2 separate regions of the Homo sapiens genome follow, and region 2 is linked to region 1. Evidence: fine-mapped expression QTL. A gene starts in region 1. The other region holds a variant in brackets. All regions are shown on one strand. Distances are from middle to middle. Region 1 holds the start of HHIPL1 (HHIP like 1). Region 2 has its middle 6.0 kb from the start of CCDC85C.

What was found. PIP is the estimated chance that this variant, and not a neighbour inherited with it, causes the effect. A credible set is the group of variants that fine-mapping cannot tell apart.
Region 2: its variant is the best candidate, but not a certain one, in a credible set for the expression of HHIPL1 in fetal neocortex (Walker 2019, PIP 0.89).

What each region holds. Positions count from the first base shown.
Region 1 is chr14:99,642,523-99,646,908 of GRCh38, reverse strand. HHIPL1 (HHIP like 1) reads right to left here and starts at 1,780. Exons shown (of 9, transcript NM_001127258.3): 1 at 1,447-1,780. The coding sequence starts at 1,701.
Region 2 is chr14:99,607,978-99,612,363 of GRCh38, reverse strand. It overlaps a transcript of HHIPL1 not described here. Among named protein-coding and RNA genes, the nearest start is that of CCDC85C, 6.0 kb to the right of the region's middle. The variant T/G (reference allele first, on the strand shown) is at 1,762.

The DNA.
Region 1 (4,386 bases):
GGGTGGTTAAGGTTTTATTTTATTTATTTTATGTATCATATTATATCATATTATATTATATTATATTATATTATATCATATCATATCATATCATATCATATCATATCATATCATATTATATTATATTATATTTTTGAGACGGAGTCTTGCTCTGTTGCCCAGGCTGGGGTGCAGTGGCTCAATCTTGGCTCACTGCAACCTCTGCCTCCCAGAGTCAAGTGCTTCTCCTGCCTCAGCCTCCCGAGTAGCTGGGATTACAGGAGCTCCCCAACATGCCCAGTTAATTTTTGTATTTTTGTAGAGATGGAGTTTCGCCATGTTGGCCAGGCTGGTCTCGAACTCCTGACCTCAAGTGATCTGCCCACCTTGGCCTCCCAAAGTGCTGGGATTACAGGCATAAGCCACCATACTCAGCTTCATTTTAAAGATATTGTGAGGTGCAGCAGTGACCTGCCCAGGTCACGAAGCTGGGGAAGTGACAGAGCCAGGATCAAACTCCAACTCCAAGTCAGCCTTCTTGCCCTTCCCCACACCACCTGCCCCTGCTGGCCGAAGGCTGGGACACGGCCCTGGCCCCTGGGGCCTCTCCACCCCAGGCCTCTCACTGCCCAGATGCTGAGGCAGGAATGCCTTGGGGCTGCCCGTCCTGCTCCATTTCTGCATTCAGCCAGGCAACATTTGCCCACTTGGGTGTGGTCAGGCCCTGGGGCCTCAGACTCCCACAAGAGGAAAACAAATAGCGGTGGCACCACCAGGTGTGCACAGAAGCAGGGGCTCCACCCTCAGAGGGAAGATGGGGGGCCCAGGGGCTTCAACAAAGAGCTGTCGCTCAGTCTTGAGAGAGCTTCTGCAGGCCAGGGCGCCATCCCCAGGAGAGGGCACAGCACCCACAGAGGTGGTGGCGGAAGTGGCAAGGGCATCAGGATGGGGGTGAGACGCTCGTGGGGGACAGTGGCCCCAACCCCCTCAACAAACCCGGGCCACACGTTGACCACGCCCACGCCAGGGCCCCCTGCTTTCACTGCCCCGGGGACAACACAAAGGAGCACTGACCGGGACAGATGCCTCTCCACCTTGGTACCCCGACAAGGGTGCAGCTGCTCGGGGTGGGACGCTGAGGGGTCGACTCCAGGGGACTGGGGCAGAAGAGCCCCCAACCTCTGAGGAAATGATGACATCATCTGTCCGTCCGTCCGTCCTTCCTGCTTCAGGAGGGGAAACTGAGGCCCCGAGAAGGCCCAAGTCACAAAACTAATGAATGGCAAAGCCAAGAGTCGTCCTGGGATGCGCGGTCTCCCCGCCCCGTGCCAAATGACTCCCTGTTGGGGCTTAGAGTTCCCGAGTCCGCCGCCCACTCTTGGCCCTCGCCCCCGCGGGGTTCCGATCTCTGCTCCAGGACTCGGCCTCCCGCGCCCCGCCCCGCCCGGTGGCCGCGCGCCCGCTCACCTGGCACAGCAGGTCCCTCGCGTAGCCGGCGCACGCGGCCCACTCGGCGGCGTCCACGCGGCTCGCCAGGGCCCAGAAGCGGCGGGTCAGCTCGGCGTCGCGCCCCTCATCGCAGCAGCCGAAGTCCGAGTACTGCGCGCAGAGGCGCAGCGGCTGCGTCGGCCGGAAGGGCGGCCTGAAGTCCAGGCACTGCGGATGCGCGGCGGCCCCGAGCACCCAAAGCGCCAGCAGCGCCCCGGCCCTGGCCCGGGCCATCGCTACGCCCCGCGGGGGAAGAGGCGGAGGGACGGCAGCCCCGGTCCCCTCCCGGGGCGCTCGCGGCGGCAGGGAAGGGGCGGGCGCTCCCCTTCCCTACACGCAGGGCCTCGAGTTTGGGGACCTCCCCTTCTAGGAGGTCACCTCTGGTCGGGGACACTCGGCGGGACTGAAGGAAGAGGGACGCGGCGCAGAATGCGGCACGACCTCTTTTAACCGCTTTCCAAATTCGATGGGAGTGGCCCGGTCTGTTTAAAGCCCCGGTGTGTTTTCCCGGTTCCGCCTGGGGCCCTGCTTCCTCCCCACAGGGCGCTCTTTAGCCAGGGAGGCGCAGGGCCAGAGGCCTGGACTCCTGGGCTTCGGTTCCACCTCCCACTGGGCTAGGGAAACGGATGCCCGCAGCCCGTCCCCGAAAGCTCCCACGTAACATTTTAAAAATGGGGGTGCGAGGGAAAGAACAGGGGGTGTTGCCCCAGGACTCTCAGGGAGAAGTGAAACCTGGCGTAGGGGTGGGGAGGGAGGACGGAGCAGTCTCCGCAGTCCACCCTTTGCCCTTACTGTGGGCTTCTTCCCAGTCTCTGCTCCTGGGGCAGCGGATTCTCCTGCAGCCCAGGACCCACTGGGGCTCCCCACTTCCACTCTCGCATAGGGAGCACTGATGAATCTACCTCCTGGGATGGGCATCCAGCCCTTTGTTCCGCTGCCCCCGCTGGAGATTCAGACCCAACCCCGCCCCACCCCCCCACACACATACAGACGCACACACGCTGTCTTACCTACCCCAGAATCTCATGGCACCAAAACCACCCACACAGACAAACACACACACACTGTCTCACCTACCCTAGAATCTCACAGCACCAAAACCACCCAGGCATTTTTCTCAAGTGGACCTCAGCGTTTGCTTCTCCCTGGAGTGTCCTTCCCCATCTTCTCTGTCCAGTGAGCTCCTACTCCATCTTCATGGCCCCAACGCACACATCCGTCCTCTGCAGGTCTCTTTGGACTGTCCTGGGGGATCATGTTTCTGTCTTTGGGCCCATGCTCCTGGCAGAGCTGGGGGTGGATGAGATGCGGCAGGGCTGGAGCACTCAGAGGTCTGTGGCTCTGGCCTGAACAGGTGCAGTGTAAGAGTCAGGGTCTCCGCACAGCCAAACATCTCTGAGTATTTGAAACACGGGGAATTTAACGCAGGGACTTGAAGCCAAAGAGGCTAAGAAGCCATACAGGGCTCAGTGAAGTAACCTTGAGATCAGCAACAGTAGGAACAGTCCCCAGGTCCTTGATGCAGGAAGAGCAGATGTTACTGGAGCCAAGGAGCTATGGTCACCTTGTCAAAGCTGGACCCTCACAAGGCCTGTCTGGCCACAGCTGGAGATAGCCACTGTCAGAGATTCTGCACAGACAGAGGAGGAGAAATACCCCGGCTTCTCCCTGCCACTTCCCCTCCAACTCCCACCTGTGGCTTTCATTGGCTGAACCTAGCAGAGGGCTGCTAGGGTGGGAAATGCGGCCTGCAACGGCTTCCTGCACAGACAGCTGGGAATAGGCAGAGCCAGGATGGAATCGGAGGGCACGATGGCGCCTACTTCCCAGCTGGGACTCAGAACTGGGTGATAGTCACACATCAACACAGGGCTCCAGATGAGTGTACAGAGGTGGAAGTGACACAGAGCCTGGGCCACAGCCATGAGGTTTGGGCTCCTACAGCCACAGAAAATGTCAAACACAGCCCAGCCCCAGCCAGAGTAACATAAATCCTCACCCTAATACCTATTTACCTCGGTTTCTGTTATCTAGTACATCCTGATTGGCTTTCCAGAAAAACAACAAGGCATGAAAAAAAGATAAGAAAAGTCACAGTCAGGAGCCGGGCACAGTGGCTCACGCCTGTAATCCCAGAACTTTGGGAGGCTGAGGCGGGCGGATCACCCGAGGTCAGGAGTTCGAAACCAGCCTGGTCAACATGGTGAAATCTCGTCTCTACTAAAAATACAAAAATTAGCCAGGCGTGGTGGCACGCGCCTATAATCCCAGCTACTGGGAGGCTGAGGCATGAGAATCGCTTGAACCCAGGAGGCGGAGGCTGTAGTGAGCTGAGATCGTGCCATTGCACTCCAGCCTGGGTGACAGAGCGAGACTCTGTCTCAAAAAAGAAAAAAAAAAGTCAGTCAGAAGGAGCATCAGAGCCAGCCTGGGACATGACACAGATGCTGAAATTACCAGACATGGAATTTAAAATAACTATGACTAATATGTTAAGGGCTCTGGTGGAAAAAGTTGACAACATCAAGACCAAACATCTCTGAATATTGACAAGGACATTGGCAAGGACAAATGGGTAATAGAAGCAGAGAGGGGTCCACTTTAAGAAAAAAAATGAAGGCCGGGCACAGTGGCTCATGCCTGTAACCCCAGCACTTTGGGAGGCCAAGGTGGGCGGATCACGATGTCAGGAGATCGAAATCATACTGGCTAATACGGTGAAACCCCATCTCTACTAAAAATACAAAATTTAGCCGGGCATGGTGATGGGCGCCTATAGTCCCAGCTACTTGGGAGGCCGAGGCAGGAGAATGGCGTGAACCCAGGAGGCGGAACTTGCAATCAGCTAAGATTGCGCCACTGCACTCCAGCCTGGGTGACAGAGCGAGACTCCGTCTCAGAAAAAAAAAAAAAATTAAA
Region 2 (4,386 bases), 35 kb after region 1:
GAGCCCGATAAGCCTTGGCTCTGTGTCCCCACCCACATCTCACCTTGAATTGTAATAATCCCCACGTGTCAAGGGCGGGACCAGGTGGAGATAGTTGAATCATAAGGGCAGTTTCTCTCATCGTCAGTGAGTTCTCACAAGACCTGATGGTTTTCTAAGGGGCTCTCCCCATCGCTCGGCTCTCATTCTCTCTCCTGCCACCGTGATTGGTAAGTTTCCTGAGGCTTCCCTGGCCACGCGGAACTGTGAGTCAATCAAGCCTCTTTCCTTTGTAAATTACCCAGTGTTGGGTATTTCTTCATAGCAGGTGAGAATAAATTAATACAGAGCCTCAAGAAAGACAAAGCAGGTTAAAGAAAGTACAAGCATCTTTGCCCACCAGAGTGACAACCCTAGACATCACCGAGGATGGGCAAGGCACATCCCATATCCTTCTGGCAGGAGTAAGAATTAGCCCCAGCTCTTTGGAAAGCACTTTGGCACTGTCTAGCCAACCTGTGTGTACTGTGTGACCCTGACATTCTCTGTCTTGGTATAGATGTGAGCAAAGTTCATACTCATGTGCGTTGGGACACGCGTATAAGAAGGTCCACAGGGCATTGCTTATAGGAAAAAAAAAAAACAACCCAAAAACTAGGCTGGGCATGGTGGCTCCCACCTGAAATCCCAACACTTTAGGAGGCTGAGGCAGGAGGATCACTTGAGGCCAGAAGTTCAAGATCAGCCTGGGCAACATAGTGAGAACCAATCTTTCTTTAAAAAAAAAAAAAAAAAAAAAGGCCAGGCACGGTGGCTCACATTTTTAATCCCAGGATTTTGGGAGGCCAAGGTGGGTGGATCACCTGAGGTCAGGAGTTCGAGACCAGCCTGACCAACATGGTGAAACCCTGTCTTTACTAAAAATTACCTGGGCGTGGTGGTGGATGCCTGTAATCTCAGCTACTCAGAAGGCTGAGGCAGGGGAATCACTTGAACCCAGGAGGTGGAGGTTGCAGTGAGCCGAGATAGTGCTATTGCACTCCAGCCTGGGTGACAGAGTGAGACTCCATCTCAAAAAAAAAAAAAAAAAATTACAGGTGGTGAGAGCCTGTAGTCCAAGCTACTCAGGAGGCTGAGGCAGGAGGATCACTTGAGTGAGTCTGGGAGGTTAAGGCTGCAGTCAGCCATGACTGAACCATTGCACTCTGGCCTGGGTGACAGAGTCTCAAATGAACAAACAAACAAAACTAGAAACAAATGTCTTCAACAGGAGAAAAGTAAAGGTAATATATGCATGCAATGGATCTAAGATAGCAGTAGTTCTTAGCCAAGGGCAATTCGGCAATGTATGAAAATATTTTTAGTTTTTAAAGTGGGGGACAGGGGTACTACTTCCGTCAAATGGGTGGAGGCCAGGGTTGCTGGTGAATGTCCTACAATGCACACAGTAGCCCCTCACAACCACGCTGAGGTTGAGTAACCTTGCTATATGGCTATGAAAATGAATGAACTACAGCTACATGTACCAACATAATGAGGGCAGAAGCACGCTGCAAATGAACACATGAAGGACCATGCCATGAAAGAGTTCAAAAGCATGCAAAATCAAACACTATTTTTTTTTGAGGTGGAGTCTTGCTCTGTTGTCTAGGCTAGAGTGCAGTGGCATGATCTCTGCTCACTGCAACCTCTGCCTCCCGGGTTCAAGCGATTCTCCTGCCTCAGCCTCCTGAATAGCTAGGATTACAGGCACCTGCCACCACACCTGGCTAATTTTTGTAT[T/G]TTCACTGGAGATGGGGGTTTTGTCATGTTAGCCAGGCTGGTCTCGAACTCCGGGCCTCAAGTGATCCACCTGCCTTGGCCTCCCAAAGTGCTGGGATTACAGGTGTGAGCCACCGTGCCTGGTCTAAACACTATCTTATAAGGGAGAAATATGGTAAGCTGAAAGCACAGGAATAACCAACACAACACTGAGATTCCCAGATACCCTTGGGTCGGGGAAGGCTGGGACCTGTGACCAGGAGGGGCTGCAGGAGCATCAAAAGCAGAAGTGGTAATACTTTAGTCTGGGTGGTGGGCTCCCAGGCATATGCTTCTCAGTGTTCTTTGTAATATGAACCAGTTCACCATAAGAATAATATTAAGTGCATTGAGGCAATAGCCAGCTCTGCAAAGAACTCCCCTGACTCAGTTTCCCCAGTATGTTGAGCCTCCCTCTTGTCTTGTTCCATCAGGCGATGGTGTGAGGAGATGTCAGCAGCTAAAGGGGCAGGCGGAGAATTTCCATGGCTCTGGCTGGGAAGTCATGGAAAGGGAGGGGTCAGATGCTGACAGCCCCCATCAATCTCTTTATTTCCATCACACTTGGCTCTGGCTCTGGCCTGCCTGGCCTCAAAGCCTTCTCACTGTCTGCTAGTCTCAGTGATCTCCCCTCAAACCTCCTGTTGAGTGCTTTCTAATCACACACAAGTCTGGCCAGATCTCTCCTCTGCTCTAAGCCTTTCTGTGGCTCCCCACTGCCATCAGGTTATACTTGAGGCTTTTTGTCAACATGTGAGGCCCTTTGGGCTTCAGCTGCACCCTTGCCTTGCAACATCAGCGGTTCTAGGCAGCCGTCCTGTGCAGTGCGGACTTCCTGAGCTCCAGAAAGGTGCCTGGCACGATGGTTAACAGTGGGGATGAAGGAACCCATCCTCCCCTAGCCCTCTCACTGCTGCCCCTGGCGGTCCAGCATGTAGGGAAACTGGCAGTCCCAGCTTCATGCGGTTTCCCCACCTATAAATGTGGGAGTTGAGACACATGACCTCGGAACTCTGTGTTCTTGAGGATCCCCATATTCTGGGCTGGCCCCACCCCAAAAGGAAGAAGGTGGCAGCCCAGGGCCATACCCAGAATCCTTTGTAGCCCAGTCTGCCAGGGGCAAGCATGGGGTTTCCTGGACAATCCTTGTTTCACTGGACCTCAGTGTTTGCCTCTGGAAAATGGGTAGAAATATCCTCATGGGAAGATAGTCCTGGTGCAGAGGATGGGAAAGGAAGCGTGGCTCCCCTCCCCAGAGCTTTGCAAGAGCTCTGCCAAGTGCTTAACACTAGCTCTGTCAGGGAGGGCTTGGATGAGAATACTGGGGCTCTGAGAGGACAAGGGACTGGTCTAGGGTCACCCACCCAGACAGTGATAGAGTTGCAGGGAGACTGAGCTAATGACATGCAGTGTTCTATCAGTAGAAATAGCTGGAGAGCTCTGACCACAGGTGCCATCCAGAGGCGTCAGAGCCACTGAGGCTTGGTCACAACATGGAAAAGCCTGAAGCAGGAGGAAGTGGGTGGTGAACATGGGTCCAGGCACCTTGCAGACACTCAGCATCACAGAACCAGAGTCACAGCAGAAGAGACATCGCAGAGCATCCACCCCATTCCTCCTTCTTGAGAAGGGAAACTGAGGTGTGGGAGACAGTAGTCTATGGGGTCAGATACACTCTGGAGCTCAGATGGTCCTGGGTTCAAATCCTGGTTCAGCCACTTGCTAGCCATGTGACCTTGGGCAAGTGACTTAACCTGTGTGAGCCTCAGTTTCTTACTCTGTAAAATGGGAACAGAGGGTTCTTACCGCATCAGTGAGGAGTCAGTGAGACAATCTATGTGGAACTCTAGCACAGTGCTGGGTACCTAGAAAGTGCCCAGTCAACATTGTCCATATTAGTAACACTTAACCACTTTTCAGTGGACCCTGACTTCTTGCTGCTGGTAGCCTTTCAGGATGATACCTCATAGTCTGGCCCAGACCTGGTCAGCCACCATTGCCTCACTGTCCTGAAGAAGATTCAGCTACCACCAAACACTTTGTTGGCCATACCAGAGTCCTTGGGTGTCCACAAGCCTCTGAACACTGCCTGTAAGTTCACGCCCAATGAGCTGAGCTTCTTGGAGGCAAACAACCAGCCAATAAGAACCCATGTTCAATCCTCGAAGGGCTAATGACACCTCCTCATAGGTTTATTATAACCCTCAAAAGAGGACAGGTTAGAATCATTGGCATATACTGAGTCTAGGATAAGCGGCAGGTGGTGTTGGTTATTGTCATTGTCATTGCCATTATTATTAGATATCAGAGCTCCCAGGGAAAGGGTCCAGCTTCCTTCTGAGGCTTACAAAGCCCTCCTCTGCCCAGCTCCATCGCTCAACCTCTTCCCGACTTTCCCCACCCTGCTGTTCCCTTCTGTATACCCCAGCTGCAAGGTGTAATAGTGTCTCTCCACACCCCTCGCCTGCTCACCTCTGGGCCTTTGCTTGTACTGCTTCCTCCACCTGGAGCCTCCTCCCCACTCCACAAGACGACAAACTCCTTCAAGATTCACCTCCTCTAGGAAGCCACTCCCAGTGCCTGAGCATGCTCCCACAATGATGTGTT